Regions from separate parts of the Homo sapiens genome. Here regions 2 and 3 are each linked to region 1. Evidence: fine-mapped expression QTL. A gene starts in region 1. Each other region holds a variant in brackets. All regions are shown on one strand. Distances are from middle to middle.

The links.
Region 2: its variant is fine-mapped to the expression of RUBCNL in whole blood (TOPMed, PIP above 0.99).
Region 3: its variant is fine-mapped to the expression of RUBCNL in whole blood (INTERVAL, PIP 0.94).

What each region holds. Positions count from the first base shown.
Region 1 is chr13:46,383,600-46,390,806 of GRCh38, forward strand. It overlaps RUBCNL (rubicon like autophagy enhancer), which reads right to left and starts at 3,653. Exons shown (of 15, transcript NM_025113.5): 1 at 3,535-3,653. RefSeq lists enhancers at 3,420-3,509, 3,890-4,169, 4,200-4,299, 4,320-4,429, 6,193-6,332 and 1 more.
Region 2 is chr13:46,345,332-46,352,538 of GRCh38, forward strand. It overlaps RUBCNL (rubicon like autophagy enhancer), which reads right to left. Exons shown (of 15, transcript NM_025113.5): 11 at 4,782-5,020; 12 at 3,955-4,016; 13 at 116-269. Among named protein-coding and RNA genes, the nearest start is that of RUBCNL, 38 kb to the right of the region's middle. The variant C/T (reference allele first, on the strand shown) is at 3,560.
Region 3 is chr13:46,466,726-46,473,932 of GRCh38, forward strand. It overlaps LINC01198 (long intergenic non-protein coding RNA 1198), which reads right to left and starts at 51. Exons shown (of 6, transcript NR_120426.1): 1 at 1-51. RefSeq lists a silencer at 6-180. The variant A/G (reference allele first, on the strand shown) is at 2,136.

The DNA.
Region 1 (7,207 bases):
CAGCCCCCAACAAAAATGAACTCTCTTGGTTTCTACACAGCAACATCCAAAGGGCAGCTGGAGGATGGGGGTAGGGTGAAGACTATTAAAGCTATCTTGATTAAGAAACAGTCAGTATATGAGCCAAACCCACAAGTCCAGGTGGCACTGTTTGGAAAAACAGAAAGCAAGAAAACTATCATCTGTAATTTCACAGTATAATAGACGACACATGGAGTGAATAATGAATTGTTTCTGCTATACTAAGACACATAGCCAGCCTACTTGAGGAGCTATTTTCAAATGACCAAGACCCAGGAGGCCCAGGCTAAACTAATTTAGCCCTAATTCTACAAGCACAGCGGTGAACAGAAGATCTTTAAATCTTGTGGACTCAAATATCTCTTCAGAATATTAATATTCACACAGCATGCAGCAGACTGCCTATACCTTGGCAATGCTAATGACATTGACATGTCTACCTCCCTGAGCCCAGATCACCATAAAACCAAGCCTAAACTAAAAGTGAGCAACCAAAAAACCCCCAGATTTTTATATAAGTCATGGGACGAATAAAATGATTTAACAATTGAGCCATATTTTTAAAAATACTTGCAAAATATGCATATAGATAAGTGCTAGTCCCTTCACTTAACAAACTTAAAAGTCCCATGCCAAAAACTTCTAAGAATCATTTCCAAGTAAATACAGAGAGAATAGGGAAGTGCCCTAAACATATTTTTGGAATTCAGTTCTTTTCTGATCAACTCTAGCTTGTCGGAATAAAAGAACGTAAAAAAGTATAAGAAGAATACATTTCTTTATAAGAATAATACAATACCTTTGAATACAATTCTTCTTATACTTACTCTATAATTGTACTTACTCTACAGTTTTCTGCAAACGTACTTACTCTACAATTTTCATCATCTAAAATCAACCAGCAAACAGTACCTGCTTACTGTGGGTGCTTTTCAACGTTACCTGTTAAAAAAAAACGTTGAGGTCTAATTTACATTTACTTCTTTTAATAAATATAAAGCTAAGGATCATTGGAATGAATGCATTTTTGAACAATTTTTCAACATAATTGTTGGAAAAATCACATTAAGTGTATAGTTTATTCTAACTTCTATTCATTTTCCAGCCTACTGATGACAAAAAGGCTTGAATCTGAAACTTTTCTTTCTACACTCTGAGAAGTATTTTACCTTTACGGAGCAGACTTTGGGCTCAGTAGAAACAAAGGATTCATTCAATGTAGAATTATTATCATCATTTTACGGGTTAGAAAAGGAAGTAAAGTGATGACCACATAGCCACTCAGCAGCATGCTCAAGTCCAAACCCTGGAACCTTGTCCATAGCCCCTAGTCTCACCATCCATGTTGCCTCCGTGTGTGGGATAAAAGACAATGCAAAAGTTAAAACACTCGCACACACAGGACCCAATTAAATATAATTTTAACGCCAATCTGAGAAAAATGACTTATTAGCTGTGTGATTTTGAGCAATGCTCTTAACCTCCCCCATGAAGGATGGTGTGAGAACGAACAGAATTGTAGCACGTGTATCAGTCTGGTACACAATGTCCTATGAAGGTTAGCTTTATTATCACCATCATTATTATTGCAGAAAGACTTTCAGTTCAGAATAAGACAGCACAGTTACAGAGACCTGGTTTTATTTTCCAGCTTCTTAACTGAGTCATCTTTCAGCTCCTTTTAATTAAAAAGAAAAAACAATCAGAGATCTAATTGGGTATCAGGAAGATACACAATATGACTAACAGGCACTAATATTACTACACTTATAGTCTCTGGAAGGCTGGACATACTTATCCAAGAACTGCCTAAATTTTTACAATGACACACCATGCTAAATCTTCCATATTAGAAATTCCATATTTCTCTCCATACTAGAAATAATCGTTCCATATTAGAAATAAGAACGTAGATTTGGTAACAAGGGAAACTATTCAAATTTGCCAGTGCTATTATTTGTGTGCCTTCAGATGGGTGGGGAAAAAATGTGTCAGCAAGCAATGCAGCCTTTCTTTAGTTTTTTACTTATCCTCTAAAGATCATGCAAAAAAAAAAAAAAACCAACAAACGTTTACTCTTGGATGTTTAACCTTGGCTCCGACAGAATGTTCCTTGTATCAAAAAACAAGAACTCAGCCAACAATGTTTTTGTTGTTAAACGGTTGCATGAAGACTATGTCCAGTCAAATCTAACCCCTCACCCCGCTCCAAGGCTATGACCCTCAATTTTCATCAAAGTTCCTACCATCTCCCACTTTGTAAAGGCCCTAAAGAAGTTAATGAAGAAGGCAAAGTTCCTGTCCTCTGCTGTCACTCAGTAATGAGCAGTTTCATGTGGCAGTGCAGAAACTGGGGTTTGAGAAACAGAGGTGTCCTGACACTCTGGACCGGTAATCACGAAAACCCCAGCACTGCCATAAAGATGCTGTCTTAACTCGGCTCCAAACAAAGTTCTGTCGGCGGCCGGCAGTGTTTCAGTGGGCAGCAATGTGGTGATACCTTCACAGGATACTTTATAGGCTTCAAAACACTTCCCTCCCTCCAGGCCATTAACCTTCTAAACCACACAGTGGGGTATGGCTGGAGTATTCTCCCCCTGAGGCAAGGGAACTGAAGTTCAAGAAGGTTTCTTGACTTGCCAAGATCTCCCCGCTACTTTGGCTTTAAGAAACTGGGTCTAAGAAACTCAAGCTTACGGATTCTCTGTTCTCTGCGCGCTCCCACCACATCTTCAATTCAAAGATCCTTCCAAATTCCACAGAAATAACCCAGTAAGGGCAGCTCTTGAGTATACCTTTTCCTTTGAGTCTTAATTTTCACTCAAGGCGAAATAACCCCTCCTCTGAAAGTTCTCCACGTTTTCCAAGCGGACAGCATCAAGTTCGCAGGGGATCTGTATCAGTCTCAGCAGGTGGACTTCACAAGGGGCGGGTTGGGGGAACGCCCGCCTGACCGTGTCCGGCGTGGCGGGGGGTTGGGGGCGAGAAGAGTGGGGGTTGCTATGTAGGGCGCCCGGACCAAATAACACGCCGCGATTTCACACTCCAGCCTAGCTCAGTTATGTAGCCAAATGTTTTTCTGTCACCACATATCCACGACTTTGGCTGTGTTGAGGACGAAAACAGAGAAAAGACACTGATCCCAGAACACTGCGCCTGGGAGGACGCAGGGCGCAGGCTTTGTAGTCTCTGAGAATCGCCCTGCGTAAAAGTGTCCTGAGGTCCCGCTTCTGCGCCCTTCCCGGCCCAAGCCGAACACAGGGTCAACCTCACTCTACAAAGTCAACCGGATAGAAATCCGCCACCCCGCGAGGAGCCCCTTCCTACTGTCTCCAAGGGGTCCCCGACACTGCTCTGAGCGACCCTAAGATACCTGGGTGTCTCTGCTGGGCACAAACCTCTCTGGCGCCACTTCCACCATCCAACCTCTCCCGCGGCCCTCCCTTCCCTTTCTCCAACCACCCTCTCCACCCCGCGCCGCTCCCATCTCGCCCCCGGCCCCGCCAGCCTCACCCAGCCAAACCCGAGCGGTGGAACGCTGCGCTGGGTAAACGCCGCGCGTCGGGTCCTCCCTCGCGCGGCTCCGGGCAGCGTTCCGTGGCCACCGCGCTCCCGGTAACAGCAGAAAGGGGAGGGAGGAGAGCTACCGAGGAGGGGACAGCGACGCCCCGACGCCGCCACGCCCCCCGCCTCCCACACGGGGGCCACCGTAGCTCTCTAGAAGCTCCTCAGGGAAGCAAAGCGCCGTTCCCGCCGCAGGCACCGAGACGTCGCCCAGATGGAAGAAACTCTGGAGATGCGCGCTCCTACACCGGTGCCGCGGCGCCCGGGCCCAGCACCACGCACCTATGCGCGCCTCTGCCGGTCCTCCTAGAAATCCCGCCCTGCCTACCCGCGGCGCGAGACGCAACGACGCTTTCAGGGGTCAAAGACCTGGCAGAAATGACTTCCCAACCCCAGATGCCCCCAGCAGCAGTATTTAGCAGTCATACAATTGCCTGAAATGAAGAATGAGTAATCTGGATGAGTCGGCCCTGAAATCGACCTGCAACTTACCCGGAACGTGAGCTGTCTCTCTCTGACCTCTGCTGGCTGCTTCACCTGGAGTCTGAGTCCGACTCATGTAGCACTTCACTGTCCGCGTTAGTTTAGCCTTCACTGTCAGCAACTCGTCACCTTGTCCTCTTGCAGCGAAGGTTTGGAATCCCATCACGGGTGTGCAGTGGTTAGTCCTGAGATCATGGTGGTGCTAGGAGAACCTGCCAACCAATACAGAAAGTTGTCACGAATAGAAACCTAAGCTCTGGCCGGGTGCGGTGGTTCAAGCCTGTGATCCCAGCACCTACTTTGGGAGGCCAAGTCGGATGGATCACTTGAGGTTAGGAGTTCGAGACCAGCCTGGCCAACATGGTGAAAGCCTGTCTCTACTAAAAATATAAAAATTAGCCGAGCGTGGTGGCGGGTGCCTGTTATGCCGGCTACTAGGGAGGCTGAAGCAGGAGCAACCCGGGAGGCGGAGGTTGCAGTAAGCCGAGATCGCGCCATTGCACTCCAGCCTGGGCGACAGAGCAAGACTGTCAAAAAAAAAAAAAAAAAAAAACAGAAAGGAGAAGAAGGGAAGGAGGGAGGGAGGGAGGAAGGCAGGCAGGCAGGCAGGAAGGAACCCAAGGGAGGGAGGGAGGGAAGAAGGAAGGAAGGAAGGAAGGAACCTAAGCCAAGGAAGGAAGGAAGGAAGGAAAGCAAAGAAAGGAAGGAAGGAAGGGCGAAGGAAGGAAGGAATCTAAGCCAAGGAAGGAAGGAACCTAAGCCCAGGAAGGAAGGAAAGAAGGAAGGAAGGAAGGTAGAAGGAAGGAAGGAACCAAAGCCAAGGAAGGAAGGAAGGAAAGAAAAGTAGAAAGGAAGGAAGGAAGGAAGGAACCTAAGTCCCAGAAGGAAGGGAGGGAGGGATGGAGGAAGGAAGGAAGCTAAGCTCTCTCTCGCGGTGCCCTGACTTCTCCCGGGGAAGGACCTCTGAGCTGCCTGCACTGGTAATGACACGTAGGTGAACCGGTCCTGGCTTTCTTAGAAGATTCCCTGCTGCATAAAACCAAATCCCGTTGCACTTTCCTGGGTTCCTTGGCTTTGTCCTTTGTCATTTCCAGGATGGAGCAGAGGCACTGGTAATTTGGCTTTTACTTGCCTGGTACCTCTGGCATGGAGTGGCTAAACGGTGGCACCATGTACTAGTTGCTGCCATCTTCAGATAAAATATTGAATCAATATGACAAAAGTCAGATGAATACTAGCTGCCAATTACCCTGCTTCCCTTGGGGGCAGCCTGTTTGGAGCATAGACCAGCTTTGACCTGCAAGAACTCTGGATATTTGGAATATTTAAAATTCCAAATACAGTATCCCAGGAATTCAGGTCAGCTGAAGGCCGATTGGGAAGGGCTTACCTTAAATGAATCAGAAAGAAAAAGGTGTGGGTGTGTGCTAACATTTTTTGAGTATCGGCTATGTGCCAGGTACTTTTTCTTATTATTTTAAGCAAGTCTGTGAACATCCCTGAGAATAACAAATCATTTGTTCCCATTTCGCAAGGGGGAAATCTATGACTTAGGTTCAAATAACTTGCCCAAGGTCACAGAGCTAATAGGTAGCACAGTTAGGCTTTGAAGGCAGGTGTATCTGACACCAAACCCTATGTCCAATTTCCACCATACTACCAGCAAGATGGAAGAATAATGAAATAAAGGGACCAGGCAAGAGCCAGTTTCAGGAATACTTAAAGGGAAAGAGGAGTCAGGAGGAACTTAGAGAAAGAATCTTGAAACAAGAGGAAATGTCATGCCAGGTAAATCAGTGAGTCAAAAACCAGAAACAGCTGTACTAGTTGGCAGACTGGACATAGTCCAAGGCAAGAAAATCGTTTTTGTAGGGAGATTAGGATATTTTGGACCAAGATTGTGGGCTTTAGTCATCCCCTCTGAAGCCACTCTGAAATCACCTTTCTCAAAACTGCCATAAGGCAGGCCTAGGCACTATCACGTGGACATCCTACTAACTCTGAGTATAGACCTTCTACATCTCGTCACAGACGCAGGAGGTTCACATTCTGAAAGAGCATCTCTAGGACTAAGGAGAAACATTCAAGGACAGGTTTTTCAAGTTAGGAATGCTCACTGGAAATCTGCTCTGTCCCCTCTGGGATCTGGAAGTAGAATTTCCCAAGCACTAAATGCTGAGGCGTGGACTTTCCAAGAATTTCCTGATTGGTTAATTCTGAGAATGTCACTGATCATTACAGACGGATCACCATGCAGGAAAAGGAGAGGCTGGTTTGGGTTTTTTCATGGGGAAGGTGAACTTCCAGATCACAGTGCCCTCCAAGACACAGGGCTTGAAAGTCATGAGTGTCAGGGACAACTCACTGTGTCAGCTAGCCCAGCCGGGCTCATGCCCAGCACCCATTGATCACACACAAAGCTCCATTGTGGCCAGGATAGCCTCATAAAAGACCGAAAGCCTAGCAGCTGCCTGCCAAAACCCAGCCAGGCTTCACAAGAAGTGATTTGTGCTGTGAGCAGAGCTTTGACCCCAGTTTTGAACTCAGCTGACAGTCAGCAAAGGGGAAACCAGTCTCTGTACAAAACAGGAAGGAAATGAGATGAAATGAACTGCATTATAAGCTACCAGAGGGTGCCTAATGGCATCTTCACCACATAGAAGTCCCAGGAAGAAAGACTGATGATTTTGCATGGGAGAGAAGCCCAGACAAGCACCAGGGAAGGAAAGAACCGAGGAAAGCTGCATTTGGCTTGGCTGTTTCTCTTCCTCCTTGCCTGACTTAACAGCCACTGTCTGCAAAAGGACACATCTGTGTGAACCCACTTGCATGAGGAGCCTAGAAGAGACAAATTCATAGAGACAGAAAGTAGAACAGAAGTTGGCAGGGCCTGGCAGGATGGGGAATACAGAGTTATTGCTTGATGGACACAGATTTTCTGTCTGGTTGATGAAAAAGTTCTGGAGAGAGATTGTAGTGATAGTTGCACAATGCTGTAAATGTACTTAATGCCACTGAATTGTACACTGAAAAATGGTTATGATAATACATTTTGTTATATTTTACCACAAATATTTATGTGTATGGTGTATGTATATATGTATATATTATTTATATATTTTATATATACATATATATG
Region 2 (7,207 bases), 38 kb before region 1:
ACTAGGTCACCGGCACTTCCCTCAGGGTTTGTGAGAGTTAAATGAAGTCAAGTGCGGAACACCCAGCACAGGCCCTGGTGCATCGGGAACGAATCTGCTCTGGGTGCACCCTCACCTCACAGCCAGCCACATGTGCAAGGGAAGCTTTCAGAATGTCCTTGAGTAAGGGTGCCAGCAGCCCTTTCTTGATCCTGACCAGGTCCTCAAGGGAGAACAGGTGGAGCTCATCAGTCAAGTGTCCCGGCACCTGCTCGAACTCCTTTAATGCACTGCCAGAGAGGAAACAAAGAGGAATTCAGAAACCCACCCACACAGAGGACAGGGAAGAATGGGGCCAGTTGTTTTCTCTTGGCACTCACACTTAATTTTTTTTTAACTCAATTTAAAAAATAAATAGCTCCAAGAACAACAGTGAACCATGCTCGCCACCATTCTACATGTTGCAAGTTTGCTTGGAAGCCAGGAAGTTAAAATTCCATGAAAGCTGATTTCAAAAAGCTGAATAAGCAGAGACCTGTATCTCTTACAGCCTGCCCATGCACACATTGAGCAAAAGAAAACTGAGCATTAGTTTTTTAGGTCTTAAAGAATGTGAACCTAGTACCCTTTGATTACCAAGTAATCAAAATTCCTACCTTATTTCTTCCAGCTACATTTCAAGTCTATCAGCCTTATGGACTGTTGGCTCAGCTGCGAAAATTCTCACTCACTCGGCAAGCCTATGACTTCCAAATGCACGAGTCAGGCACTGAGCTTAAGGCTCATGCAGCCAACTGCCAGTGGTCATGGTCCCTAGGGCATTCAAAACTTCATCTTCTCCAAACCCGGCAGGTGTCGACCTGAATTCTCTCAATGGCTAGTAGAAGCACTATTCCCTGCACTTCCAAGACAGCCATGGCCTACACTGGACTTGGCATGCTACAATGCCAAATTCTCTTCAATTCTGCACCCAGCCTGAGGTGCCCACTCCTGCGGCATCCTCTGCCTGGAGAATCCCCAATCCCTCTTCTTTGCTCCACCTTACTCTTCAAGCTCAGCCTTTTTCTCCTGGAATCCTTGCTTGCGGTCTACCCTATCTCACTCCTAACTGAGCTAAATGCTGCCTCCGTTTGTATCCTCATGGTCCCCCGACACGTGTCTAACACTCAGTCCAGCAGTGATCGGTTGGTGCTGACCATCCCCCTGGACTTAATACAGATCTACTAATTTTTTTTATCTGAAGCCCAGAATGGATATTCAAGATTTTTTGTACAAGGTAGGAAGTATAGGTATTGTTCTATGTTGTGGATGAAAAAACCGAGGCCCTGAGACCAATGCCACGCCAAGGCCATGAAGCAAAGGCTCAAAACCAAATGACTCCAGAATACATGCTCCTTCCCCCAAAATTTAATTAAAAAGCAATACATCATCATTAAAGATTAGAGACTGAAAAAAACGCTTTAAAGCTAAACCATTTATTTAAAAACTCTATAATTCCACCAAGTACAATAAACAATCTTAACTTCCTTGAGCAACCTATGCTTTTTCTACTTAAAAATCTCTCTCTCAATGAATTCATGCCTAAGTCTTTACTGGTTGTATAGTATTCTATTCTACGGACATGGTATTAATGTAAGTACTGCCCTATTACGAACACCTAGATTTTTAAAATAATTTCAACTTTTATTTTAGATTTGGGGGTATGTGTGCAGGTTTGTTACACAGGTATATCGCAGGACACTGAGGTTTGGAGTATCAATGATCCCATCACCCAGGGAGAGAGCATAATACCTCTTAATAGACTTTTAATGCCTTTTCTTATTTAAAAACAAAACTAGTAACCCCAGCACTTTGGGAGGCTGAGGCAGGCGGATCACCTGAGGTCGGGAGTTTAAGACCAGCCTGGCCAACATGGTGAAACCTTGTCTCTACTAAAAATAACAAAAATTAGCCAGGTGTGATGGCACATGTCTGTAATCCCACCTACTTGGGAGGGTGAGGCACGAGAATCGCTTGAACCTGGGAGGCAGAGGCTGCAGTGAGCCAAGACTGTACCACTGCACGCCAAACTGGGTGACAGAGCTAGACTCTGTCTTAAAACAAAACCAAAAACAACAAAAAAAACTATACTTTAAATCTCTACCTATATCCATCGGTATGTCCTTAGGATAAACTTCCAAAAGTACAATTTTTGAAGACCATGGTTCCACTTGGTTAGACATGCCTCCCTATAAGGGGTTTTAAAAGGCCCCTGGTATACTCATGGTCATATCCACTTTATTCACAATAGCCAAGGAGGGGAAGCAACCCTAGTGTCCATGGATGAATAGATGGATTAAAAAAATGTAGTATATACATACAATGAAATATTATTCAAACTTAAGAAGGAAGGAAATTCTGGCTGGGCGCGGTGGCTCATGCCTGTAATCCCAGCACTTTGGGAGGCCGAGGCGGGCAGATCACGAGGTCAGGAGATCGAGACCATCCTGGCTAACATGATGAAACCCTGTCTCTACTAAAAACACACAAAAAATTAGCCGGATGTGGTTGCGGGCGCCTGTAGTCCCAGCTACTTGGGAGGCTGAGGCAGGAGACTGGCGTGAACCCGGGAGGCGGAGCTTGCAGTGAGCCGAGATCGCGCCACTGCACTCCAGCCTGGGCGACAGAAGGAGACTCCGTCTCAAAAAAAAAGAAGGAAGGAAATTCTGACACATGCTACAACATGAATGAACCTTGAGGACTTTATGCTAAGTCAAACAAGCCAGTCACAAAAAGACAAATACTGTAAGATTCCTCTTATATAAGGCATGTGTGTGGGCAAAATCATGGAGACAGAAAGTAGAATAGTGGCTGCCAGGAGTTAGGCTAAGAGGAAGAGGGAATGGGGAGTTGTTAAATGATACAGAGTTTTAGTTTTGCAAGATGAAAAGAGTTTGGGGGCTGCATGGTGGTGATGATTGCATAACGATGTTAATACTTTAATGCCACTGAAGTGTATTCTAAAAATGGTTAAGATGGTAAATTTTATATGTATTTACCACAATTTAATGATAACAATAATAATAATAAAAAGGTCACTGGCTAGAGTTGTTCATCCTCCAACTAAACCATTCTTCTTAATGAGTTAAATTCTCCATTATACGGTTAGGCTGTGTCCCCACCCAAATCTCATCTTGAACTGTAGCTCCCATAATTCCCACATGTCATGGAAGGAGCCTGGTGGGAGGTAATTGAATCATGAGGCACGTCTTTCCTGTGTTGTTCTCATGGTAGTGAATAAGTCTCACGAGATTTGATTTTTTTTTTTTTTTTGAGACGGAATCTCGTTCTGTCTCTAGGCTGGAGTTCAGTGGTGCGATCTTGATTCACTGCAACCTCTGCCTCCCAGGTTCAAGCGATTCTCCTGCCTCAGCCTCCCAAGTAGCTGGGACTACAGGCATGCAGCACCACGCCTAGCTAATTTTTGTAATTTTAGTAGAGACAGAGTTTCACCATGTTGGCCAGGATGGTCTCGATCTCTTGACCTCGTGATCCACCCACCTCGGCCTCCCAAAGTACTGGGATTACAGGTGTGAGCCAC[C/T]GTGCCTGGCTGATCTGATGGCTTTATAAAGGAGAGTTCCCCTGCAAATGCTCTCTCTTTGCCTGCCACCATGTAAGACGTGCTTTTGCTCCTTGTTCACTTTCTACCATGATTGTGAGGCCTCCCCAGCTATGCAAAACTGTGAGTCAATTAAACCTCTTTCCTTTATAAATTACCCAATCTCTGGTATGACTTTATTAGCTACTTGAGAACAGACTAATGCATCCCACTATTGGCTTAGTAATTCAAAGAGATGGCATGATTTCCCAAGGAAAGCCATGAGGTCATCACTGTGCTAAGAAGCCCTGTGTAATGGGGGAGCCAGATGCAGGAGGCACTAATAGGATTAGCAGATGTATGGAGGGAAGGCAGCCTGTCCCAGCTGAGAATAGTACCTGTTAGCAAACCTACAGGTCTTCAACAGCTTCTTGATATGGAAGAGCTGCTCCTGAATTTCCTAATGGGAGAAACCAAACACGGGGAAAAGTTAAATGTAATAAATGACACGGGAAAAGTGCAAGTCAAATTTAAATGTTATTTCTAAGCTTGAAATGCTGCACTTGTATAAAACAAACCTTGAAAGCAAACCGCCTATACAGCAAGCCTTCACAACTGAGTCTGCTGATCCACAAAGTGTGCCCTGGATGGATCCAGGTTTTGTAGAACCTAAAACTTACAGAACTTTGGGGCCTTCTTCAAGAAAAACATAATACTAAGTATAAGATTCAGTGTGGGGCCTTGGAAAGAGCCTGTGCAGGAGAGGGGCTCCAAAGTGTAAGCTTCACTAATTTTTTTTTTTTTTTTGAGACAGGGTCTTGCTCTGTCACCCAGGCTGGAGTGCAGTAGTGCAATCTCGGCTTGCTGCAACCTCCACCTCCCGGGTTCAAGCGATTCTCCTGCCTCAGCCTCTCGAGTAGCTGGGATTACAGGCGTGTGCTACTATACCTGACTAATTTTTTTTTTTTTAATTTCTAGTAGAGATGGGATTTCACCATGTTGGCCAGGCTAGTCTCGAACTCCTGACCTCAGGCAATCCGCCCACCTTGGCCTCTCAAAGTGCTGGGATTACAGGTGTGAGCCCCTGCGCCCAGCCGCTTCACTCGCTTTATGATCCATTTGCCTCTTAGAGGATGTATCTGTGGGTTCCCCAAGCTAGTGTGATGTGCATTTCCTGCCACAGGACACTTCCAATGAGAGGGATGGGGTTGGGGCTGCGGCTCACCTTCACTCTGTCCAGCTCCTTGGCTTTCGCATACAGGCTTTGGCCGATGCTCAGCAAATTGAAAATGGGCTGGTGCCATATGCTGTCGAGCAGCTGTTTGGAGAAATTGCTGACGTAGTACTTCTTGAAGTCCCACATCATCAGGATTCGGGCAGGGATGCACGACTCTGCATATGAGTGGCAGCAGTCACAGAAATACTTCCCTAGGTATTCGCAGTACCGGAGCCGCTTCACAAACTCTGCCAAGCATACCGGAGGGTGAGTGCCACACCTGGTGCTGAAAACCTATCCTGGTATACCCCGACTTCCAATTCCTACGCAAGATTCAAAGACTCTGATGACTTGTTTCATGATGATAAAGCCATACTCAACCTCATGACAGCTGGGAAGGCTCCAGCAGAGACTTGGGGAATTAAATCATGGCCATTCATGAGCTCTGCTCTTGTGGAACAGACGTCAGAAAAACAAAACCTTCCCAAAATACTCCTGGATTTGGAAGATGGAAATTGCAAACTGCAGTGTAGCAAAAGGAACATTCATTTTAGGATCTGGAAATCTGGGTGGGAGTCCAGACTCCTCTCACTAGCAGGAAGACTGAAGGCAGGTTAGGCTAACTATTCTGAGACCACAAAATGCAACTCAGAACTGGATCGAGTGTTATTACACATAGGAAAAGTGCTTTATAAATTGTGAAGCAGTATATATACAATGTTAGGAAGCAGCATCATAAAGACCTTGATAAATCAATGAGAAAAAAATACAAAAATGCACAAAGGATGGGAATAGGTAATTCACGGAAAGAAGAAATGCAGATAACTAACAGAGAAAAACAATCTCAGAAACAAAAAAATGCATATTTTAAAAGTGAGGCTGAGCACAGTGGCTTGTACCAGTAATCCTAGCACTTTGGGAGGCCAAGATGGGAGGACTGCTTGAGCCCAGGAGTTCAAGACCAGCGTGGGCAACATAGTGGGACCCCATCTCCACAGAAAAAAAAAAAAAATTAGCCAGGCAATGTGGTGTGTGCCTGTGGTCCTAGCTACTTGGGAGGCTAAGGCAGGAGGATTGCTTGAAGGTGGAGGCTACAGTGAGCCATCATCATGTCACTGCATTCCATCCAGCCTGGGCAACAGAGCGAGACCCTGTCACAAATTGATGACAAATAATAAAATTAAATTGAAATGAAATGAAAGAAAAGAAAAGTGAGATACTCTGTTTTGACTCAGCCTGTCATAAATTTAGAAGACCCAGAACTGGTGCAGTATCTAGAGGAGGGCACTTACGTCTAGCACTGATAGAACTAATTTGTAGGAAGACATTTTTGTGATAGACTTCAATTCTCACATGTGTAACAGTAATCCTGCTTCTGTTACTCCATCAGACAGAAGTGCTAACAGGCACACATAGTGATATAAAAAGGTGTTCATTACAGCACATTTATAATGGGGGTGGCAGCCAAAATGTCCATCAAAAGGCAATTGGTTAAATAAGTATGGTGCACTCAACATGAAATGCTGTACAGCCCATAAAGTACACGGAAGAGCATAGGAAGTGGACATCCAGTTACAAATAGGTATAATGTGATCTCAATTTTATTTAAGAACATATATATAAACATACACATAAACATATATTCACTGTCTAAATCCCCACCAAAAAGCCAACAGTGACTATTTCTGGAGGGTAGGAGAAAGAAGGAATTTTTGCTCTTTACACTTTTTTTTTTTTTTTTTTGAGAAGGAGTCTCGCTCTGTTGCCCAGGCTGGAGTGCAGTGGCATGATCTCAGTTCAGTGCAACCTCTCCCTCCTGGGTTCAAGTGATTCTCCTGCCTCAGCCTCCCCGGTAGTTGGGACTACAGGGCGTGCCACCATGCCCGGCTAATTTTTGTATTTTTAGTAGAGATGGGGTTTCACTATGTTGGCCAGGCTGGTCTCAAACTCCTGACCTCAAGTGATCCACTCATGTTGGCCTCCCAAAGTGTTGGGATTACAGGCGTGAGCCACCACGCCCACTGCACTTTCTAACCTACTAAAATAAACACTCATTGACCACTTTTGGAAATGTGTCTAATAAAATACATTAACAAACAAAAGGTATAAAAACTAATGCAACAAATACCTGTGCACTCACCACCCAGCTTCAGAAAGAAAACAATTCAGTTGAAGTCTTCTATGTGCCCCTCCCTCAACACTAGGTTCTGACATGAACCAAGTTTGATATTTATCATTCATAGTTTGAGTCATGTACGTCTTTGTAACTAAAATACCATACAGCATAACAGAAATCTTAGTTGCCATATACTGGGAGGATTAATGAAATCATGGATGGGAAAGCAGCTGCTGTAGAACCCGTACACTGTAGATTCTGAAGATCATTTCCAAATAATGGCTTTAAAAATAAACAAGGCCTGGCCGGGTGCGGTGGC
Region 3 (7,207 bases), 83 kb after region 1:
AGCAGGTTATTTGCAATCTCCCGGAGCCTAAGGGCCGAAGGCAGGCGAGAGAATTCTCAGGGGCTGTGGGGTTTTGTAGATTGTGCATCCCAAACTTTGCAGTATTAGCCAAGCCTTTGTATGAGGTCACAAAGGGGGCGGGGACCGGGAACCTTTGGAATGGGGATCCCAAGAACAGCAAGTCTTTCATGACTTAAAGGAAAAACTTCTGGCAGCCCCAGCCCTGGGGCTACCCGATCTGACAAAGCCTTTGCCATTGTATGCGTTAGAGAGAGAAAAGATGGCAGCTGGACTTTTAACCCAAACTGTGGGGCCCTGGCTGAGGCCGGTGGCCTACGTCTCTGAACAACTAGATAGGGTTTCTAAAGGATGGCCCCCCTGTTTGAGGGCCTTGGCAGCAACTGCCCTGCTAGTACAAGAAGCAAATAAGCTGACTCTTGGGCAAAACCTGAACATAAAGGCCCCCCATTTTGTGGTGGCTGAGAGCCAGCCCCTTTTCCCCCCGTGGCTCTTGGGACCCCCATCGCAGGGGGGGTGGCACCCCCTGCGAGGCGGGGACTGAGAGCCAGCCCCTCATCCGCCACAGGCTCTTAGGAACCCCATCGCAGGGGGGGAGGCAACCCCCCACGAGGCAGGGACTGAGAGCCAGCCCCTCTTCCCCCTCTGGCTCTTAGGGCCCCCATCCCAGGAGGGGGAGGCACCCCCCACGAGGCAGGGACGCAGAGGCAGCCCCTATTCTGCCCCCGGCTCTTAGGACCCCCATCGCAGGGGGGGAGACACCCCCCACGAGGCGGGGACTGAGAGCCAGCCCCTCTTCTCCCCCTGGCTCTTAGGACACCAATCGCAGGGGTGGGAGGCACCCCCAACGAGGCAGGGACTGAGAGCCAGCCCCTCGTCCCCCCCGGCATAGGACCCCCATCGCGGATCCTAAGAACCTTAGGACCCACTTGGAGGACTGTGGGTATTAGGTGTCCAAGAAGAAAGCTCAAATCTGCCGATGGCAGGTACCTTACTTAGGATTTACTATCTGACAGGAGTCCGAACGCAGCCCGGGAACAGAAAGAAAGCAGGTTATTTGCAATCTCCCGGAGCCTAAGTGCCTAAGGCAGGCGAGAGAATTCTCAGGGGATGTGGGGTTTTGTAGACTGTGGATCCCAAACTTTGCAGTATTAGCCAAGCCTTTGTATGAGGTCACAAAGGGGGCGGGGACCGGAACCTTTGGAATGGGGATCCAAGAACAGCAAGTCTTTCATGACTTAAAGGAAAAACTTCTGGCAGCCCCAGCCCTGGGGCTACCCGATCTGACAAAGCCTTTTCCATTGTATGCGTTAGAGAGAGAAAAGATGGCAGCTGGACTTTTAACCCAAACTGTGGGGCCCTGGCTGAGGCCGGTGGCCTACGTCTCTGAACAACTAGACAGGGTTTCTGAAGGATGGCTCCCCTGTTTGAGGCCTTGGCAGCAACTGCCCTGCTAGTACAAGAAGCAAATAAGCTGACTCTTGGGCAAAACCTGAACATAAAGGCCCCCCATTTTGTGGTGGCTGAGAGCCATCCCCTTTTCCCCCCCTGGATCTTGGGACCCCCATTGCCGGGGAGGCACCACCCGTGAGAGTGCTGGGATTACAGACGTAAGCCACCGCGCCTGGCCAATAAATGTTAGCTTTTTAATAATGTATCTCTGGTAGTTGCCTGCTTCACTAGCCCTACACACACACACACACACGTGCACCTGTGCAATTTTCCCTGGTCAGCATTGATGACAGTGAATAAGAAGAATAGATATACATTGTTTCATGAACCTTTGCAGTGTTTGAGGTTTTATAAAGGCACAGGTCCAGTTATACAGACTTGTGCCATCAAACTTGTGCAGCTTTAAATGAGTATTTTTTTTTTTGGCTGGGAGTGGTGGCTCATGCCTGTAATCCCAGAACTTTGGGAAGCTAAGGCAGGAAGATTGCTTGAGCCCAGGAGTTTGAGACCAGCCTGAGCAATGCAGTGAGATCCCATCCCTAAAAAATAATAATTTTTAAAATAAGAACAATTAATTTAAAAAAATAAAATGAGTGTTTTTAAAATTGTATTTTTAAATTGACAATAATTGTACACATTCATGGGGTACATAGTGGTGTTTCCAT[A/G]TACATAATGTATAGGGATTAGATCACATTAATTAGCATATTTATCATCTCAAGAGTATTCTTTTTAATGTGTCCTTTCCTCAAAGAGGAAATCAATATTCTGCTTGCTGGGGAGGGGGAAAGAGGCAGTTGCTATTTATTCTGTGCCCACTGATTTTTTCCCTAATCTAAATGAAAATAATAAACCACATAATCTGTTTGAACCACAAAGATTCTTCCTTATAATATTGTTCCCTTCTCCCTCTGTCATTGCCATAAAAAGCTTGTTCCTTGCCATCTGAATTCTCATAAAGCCCAGCTGGCCTTTGTCCTAACGCAGCAGATCTCAGCTTATTTCCCTTTCAGTGAATCAGATAACATCATCCTTTTTTACTGACTTTCGTACTTAGATTTATGAGTGACTTGGCAATGTGGTAATGTCTACCAATGAATGTCTTTTTTTTTTTTTTTTTAACCAAGAGGCATTTGTAAAAGCAGCTAAATATAGTAATTGCTGGATTCATTTTTCCCTGCTTCCACATACTTTTAGCCAAGGAACTGTGCACTGTCAAGGGCATTGAGCAATAGACAGTATAATGATATGCCTATATGACCTATTTATTTAGAATATTTAGAATCTCTAAACTTCAGTTTGTTCATTTGTAAAGTCTGCATAAGAGTATCCACTTCAATAGTATAATTATAAAAATTAAAATAGCTAGTATGAATATTTAGTATGGAGCTAATTTTGCTTTAAACTACTGATTATCTTTCAAAGATATCTAAATAATAAGAAAGAAAGTCTTCCTATTCACCTATATGGAACCATGGATTGCTGGACCGGCATGGTGGCTCACACCAGTAATCTTAGCACTTTGGGAGGCTGAGGCAGGAGGATCACTTGAGCCCAGGAGTTCGAGACCAGGCTAGGCAACATAGAGAGACACCATCTCAAAAAAAAGAAAAGAAAAGGAAAAATAAAACCATGTATTTACCCATGGAGTCACCATTTCCAGTGCTGTCATTCATAGGTGAGGATGATGCAATTGACCCATTAAAAGACAAGGGCTTGGGGCCGGGCGCGGTGGGTGACTCACGCTTGTAATCCCAGCATTCTGGGAGGCCGAGGCAGCCGGATCACGAGGTCAGGAGATCGAGACCATCCTGACTAACACAGTGAAACCCCATCTCTACTAAAACAATATAAAAAATTAGCTGGGCGTAGTGGCGGGCACCTGTAGTCCCAGCTACTCGGGAGGCTAAGGCAGGAGAATGGCGTGAACCTGGGAGGCAGAGCTTGCAGTAAGCCGAGATCGCGCCACTGCCCTCCAGGCTAAAAACAAAACAAAAAAAAGACAAGGGCTTGGGCCGGGCCTGTAATCCCAGCACTTTGGGAGGCCGAGGCAGGCAGATCACAAGGTCAGGAGATCGAGACCATCCTGCTTAACGTGGTGAAACCCCGTCTCTACTAAAATTACAAAAAATTAGCTGGGCGTGGTGGCGGGTGCCTGTAATCCCAGCTACTCATGAGGCTGAGGCAGGAGAATCACTTGAACCCGGGAAGCAGAGGTTGCAGTGAGCAGAGATCGTGCCACTGCACTCCAGCCTGGGTGACAGAGTGAGACTCCGTTTCAAAAAAAAAAAAAAAGAAAAGAAAAGACAAGGTCTTCAGGCCGGGTGTGGTGGCTCATGCCTGTAATCTCAGCACTTTGGGAAGCTGAGGTGGGTAGATCACCTGAGGCCCAGAGTTCGAGACCAGGCTGGCCAACATGGTGAAACCCTGTCTCTACTAAAAATACAAAAATTAGCCAGGTGTGGTGGCGGCACCTGTGATCCCAACTACTTGGGAAGCTGAGGCAGGAGAATTGCTTGAACCTTGGAGTTGGAGACTGCAGTGAGCCGAGATCACACCACTGCACTCCATCCAGCCTGGGCAACAAAGTGAGACTCTGTCTCAAAAAAAAAAAAAAAAAAAAAAGACAACGACTTCAAGCTGCTTCACCAGCAGTTATCTGTGTCTTTTGTTTTAGGGACAGCTCTGCAGATTTGGGGTAGCATGTGGCCAGGGAACCAAAGTAAATAGTTTGCAAAATGATCAAATTTGTCTTCCTGACATTATCAACGTCTAATTTAATGTTCATCTTTTGGTAATGTTCCAGAAAATAGATTAGACACTTTGGGAGTGATAGCAATTCTTAAACAACATTTTTTTTTCTATACTAAATATAATATGTGCATTGTACAATAGTTGGGATGGAAAAATATTCTAAATGTCTAAATCATATATAATCCTAAAACTTATAACCATTATTAATATTTTGGTATATTTTCTTTTAGTCTTTTTTGCATATATGGATGCACAGTATATATGTTACACATACGCATATTAAAAAAATCATCTTATCAAATATCTAGCTTTTAGAAACAACATTATAGCATCAGCAGCTTTATAATCACTAAATGTCTTTCAAAAAACCTGATTTTGAATGACTGTGTAATAGTCCATAATATGGCTGATCCACAATTTATTTAACCAACACTCACTGCTTAATAAAATTACCATTCCACCACATATGCCAGGGGTACGATTCACTTTTTATACAAAAGAGTGGGCCAAGTTCTATTTATATAGTTGGAAACCAAGGGATACATTAATGGTTTAGATACTAGAAGTGTCAGATGTATAAAGAATGACAGCAAATAACTTTAGTCTCCATTTCTATCGTGACCTTTAAAATTTGGCTTTGTGAAAGGAAAATAAATCTTGGAACCCCAACATCACTAAGCCAAAGGAAAAAGCCAAGCTGGGAACTGTGTCATGCAAACCTGCCTCCCATTTTATTCCTAAATAAGACAGCTACAAAGATTTATTTATTTATTTATTTATTTATTTATTTATTTATTTATTTTAAGATGGAGTCTCGTTCTGTCACCCAGGCTGGAGTGCAGTGGCATAATCTCAGCTCACTGCAACCTCTGCATCCCAGGTTCAAGCGATTCTCCTGCCTCAGCCTCCCGAGTAGCTGGGACTACAGGCGCCTGCCACCATGTCTGGCTAATTTTTTGTATTTTTAGTAGAGACAGGGTTTCACCTTGTTGGCCAGGCTGGTCTTGAACTCCTGATCTCAAGTGATCTGCTCACCTTGGCCTCCCAGTGTGCTAGGATTACAGATGTGAGCCATCCCACCCGGCCCAAAGATTTTTTTTTTGTTTTTTTTTGAGATGGAGTTTCACTCTTGTTGCCCACGCTGGAGTCCAATGGCACAATATCCACTCACGGCAACCTACGCCTCCTGGGTTCAAGCAATTCTCCTGCCTCAGCCTCCTGAGTAGCTGGGATGACAGGCACGCACCACCACGCCTGGCTAATTTTTGGGTTTTTAGTAGAGACAGGGCTTTGCCATGTTGGCCAGGCTGGTCTCGAACTCCTGGCCTCATGTGATCCACCCACCTCAGCCTCCCAAAGTGCTGGGATTATAGGCATGAGCCACCACACCAGGCCAAGATTTTTTAAAAGGCTACATACCTCCCTCACAATTTGTTCATCAGGAAATTCCTTGTGGGCCCCAAGATCTTTACCCTAAAACAGTTCTGTTGAATTTTACCCTGACAATGTAAACTGATAGCTTATCTTCACAGGTACAGGACAAAGGACAGAGCTCTAAGTCATCCCTCTGTACTCACCTAAGACAAATGCATATCTGATTGCTTCCTCTGTAAAAATGCACATTCACTGAGCTAGACTAAGGCGTAAGTGACTACTCCTTTACCCTCCTCTCACGTGTAAATTGCGTATTTGGTGAAAGGCTGATCAAAGACTCAAAAGAATGCAACCATTTGTCTCGTATCTTTCCACACCTTGTAAACATTTCTTCCTCTTTCCCCAGTATCCGCTCTTTCCCCTTTAAATATTAAAGCCCTCAAAATCATCTCTGGAGAAAGGCACAGACCTGCCTCTCAGCTGCATATACTTAACCTTGGGCAATTTATCTCTAAATGGATTGAGACCTGTATCAGATATGTTTTGGTTCACAACTTGAAGGAGATAGATGATGCAGTGACTGATGTGTTTGCCTATGGTGATAAACAGTAAGTTTTACCTTGATTCCTACATTTAGTTTTTCACTCACATGTTCCCAGCAGATCCTAAGAGGTAGCAGCCTTGTTGGTGAATGAGTTATTTGTTCATTCAATAGACTAAGTTCTCTGTGTTGCTATTTCCTTTGGCCACTCTGAGTTGTAGACAAATGAATTCTTATTAGAGATGAAATCTGTATTTAATTGTTGAATGAAAGGAATTTTCAAATCAATTTAAATGTAAACTCTTCATATAAATCCAAACATACCTGGCTCTTCCTTTTATCTTCAAAAGTCAGTTGAGTTTTTTTTCATCAAAAATGTTGCATAGGGGCCAGGCACGGTGGCTCACGCCTGTAATCCCAACACTTTGGGAGGTCGAGGCAGGCAGATCACGAGGTCAGGAGTGCGAGATCAGCCTGGCCAATATGGTGAAACCCTGTCTCTACTGAAAATACAAAAACTAGCTGGGCCTGGTGGCACGCACCTGTAGTCCCACCTATTTGGGAGGCTGAGGCTGGAGAATCGCTTGTACCCAGGAGGCAGAGGTTGCAGTGAGCCGAGATCACACCACTGCACTCCAGCCTGGCAACAGAGTGAGACGCTGTATCAAAAAAAAAAAAAAAGAAAAAAAAAGTTGCATAGGGCTGGGCTGCATGTGGTGGCTCACACCTGTCATCTCAGCACTTTGGGAGGCCAGGGTGGGCAGATCACTTGAGGTCAGGAGTTTGAGACCAGCCTGGCCAACACGGTGAAACCTGGTCTCTACCAAAAAATACAAAACTTAGTTGGGCGTGATGGTGTGTGCCTGTAGTCTCAGCTACTTGGGAGGCTGAGGTGGGAGAATCACCTAAACTCAGGAGGGGGAGGCTGCAGTGAGCTGAGATCATGGCACCGTACTCCAGCCTGGGTGACAGAGTGAGACCGTGTCTTACGAAAAAAAATATTGTTGCATAGTTTTGCCCTAAGCCAGCCACACTCACTAGCCTATTTCCTACTGACACTCACCCCTACAG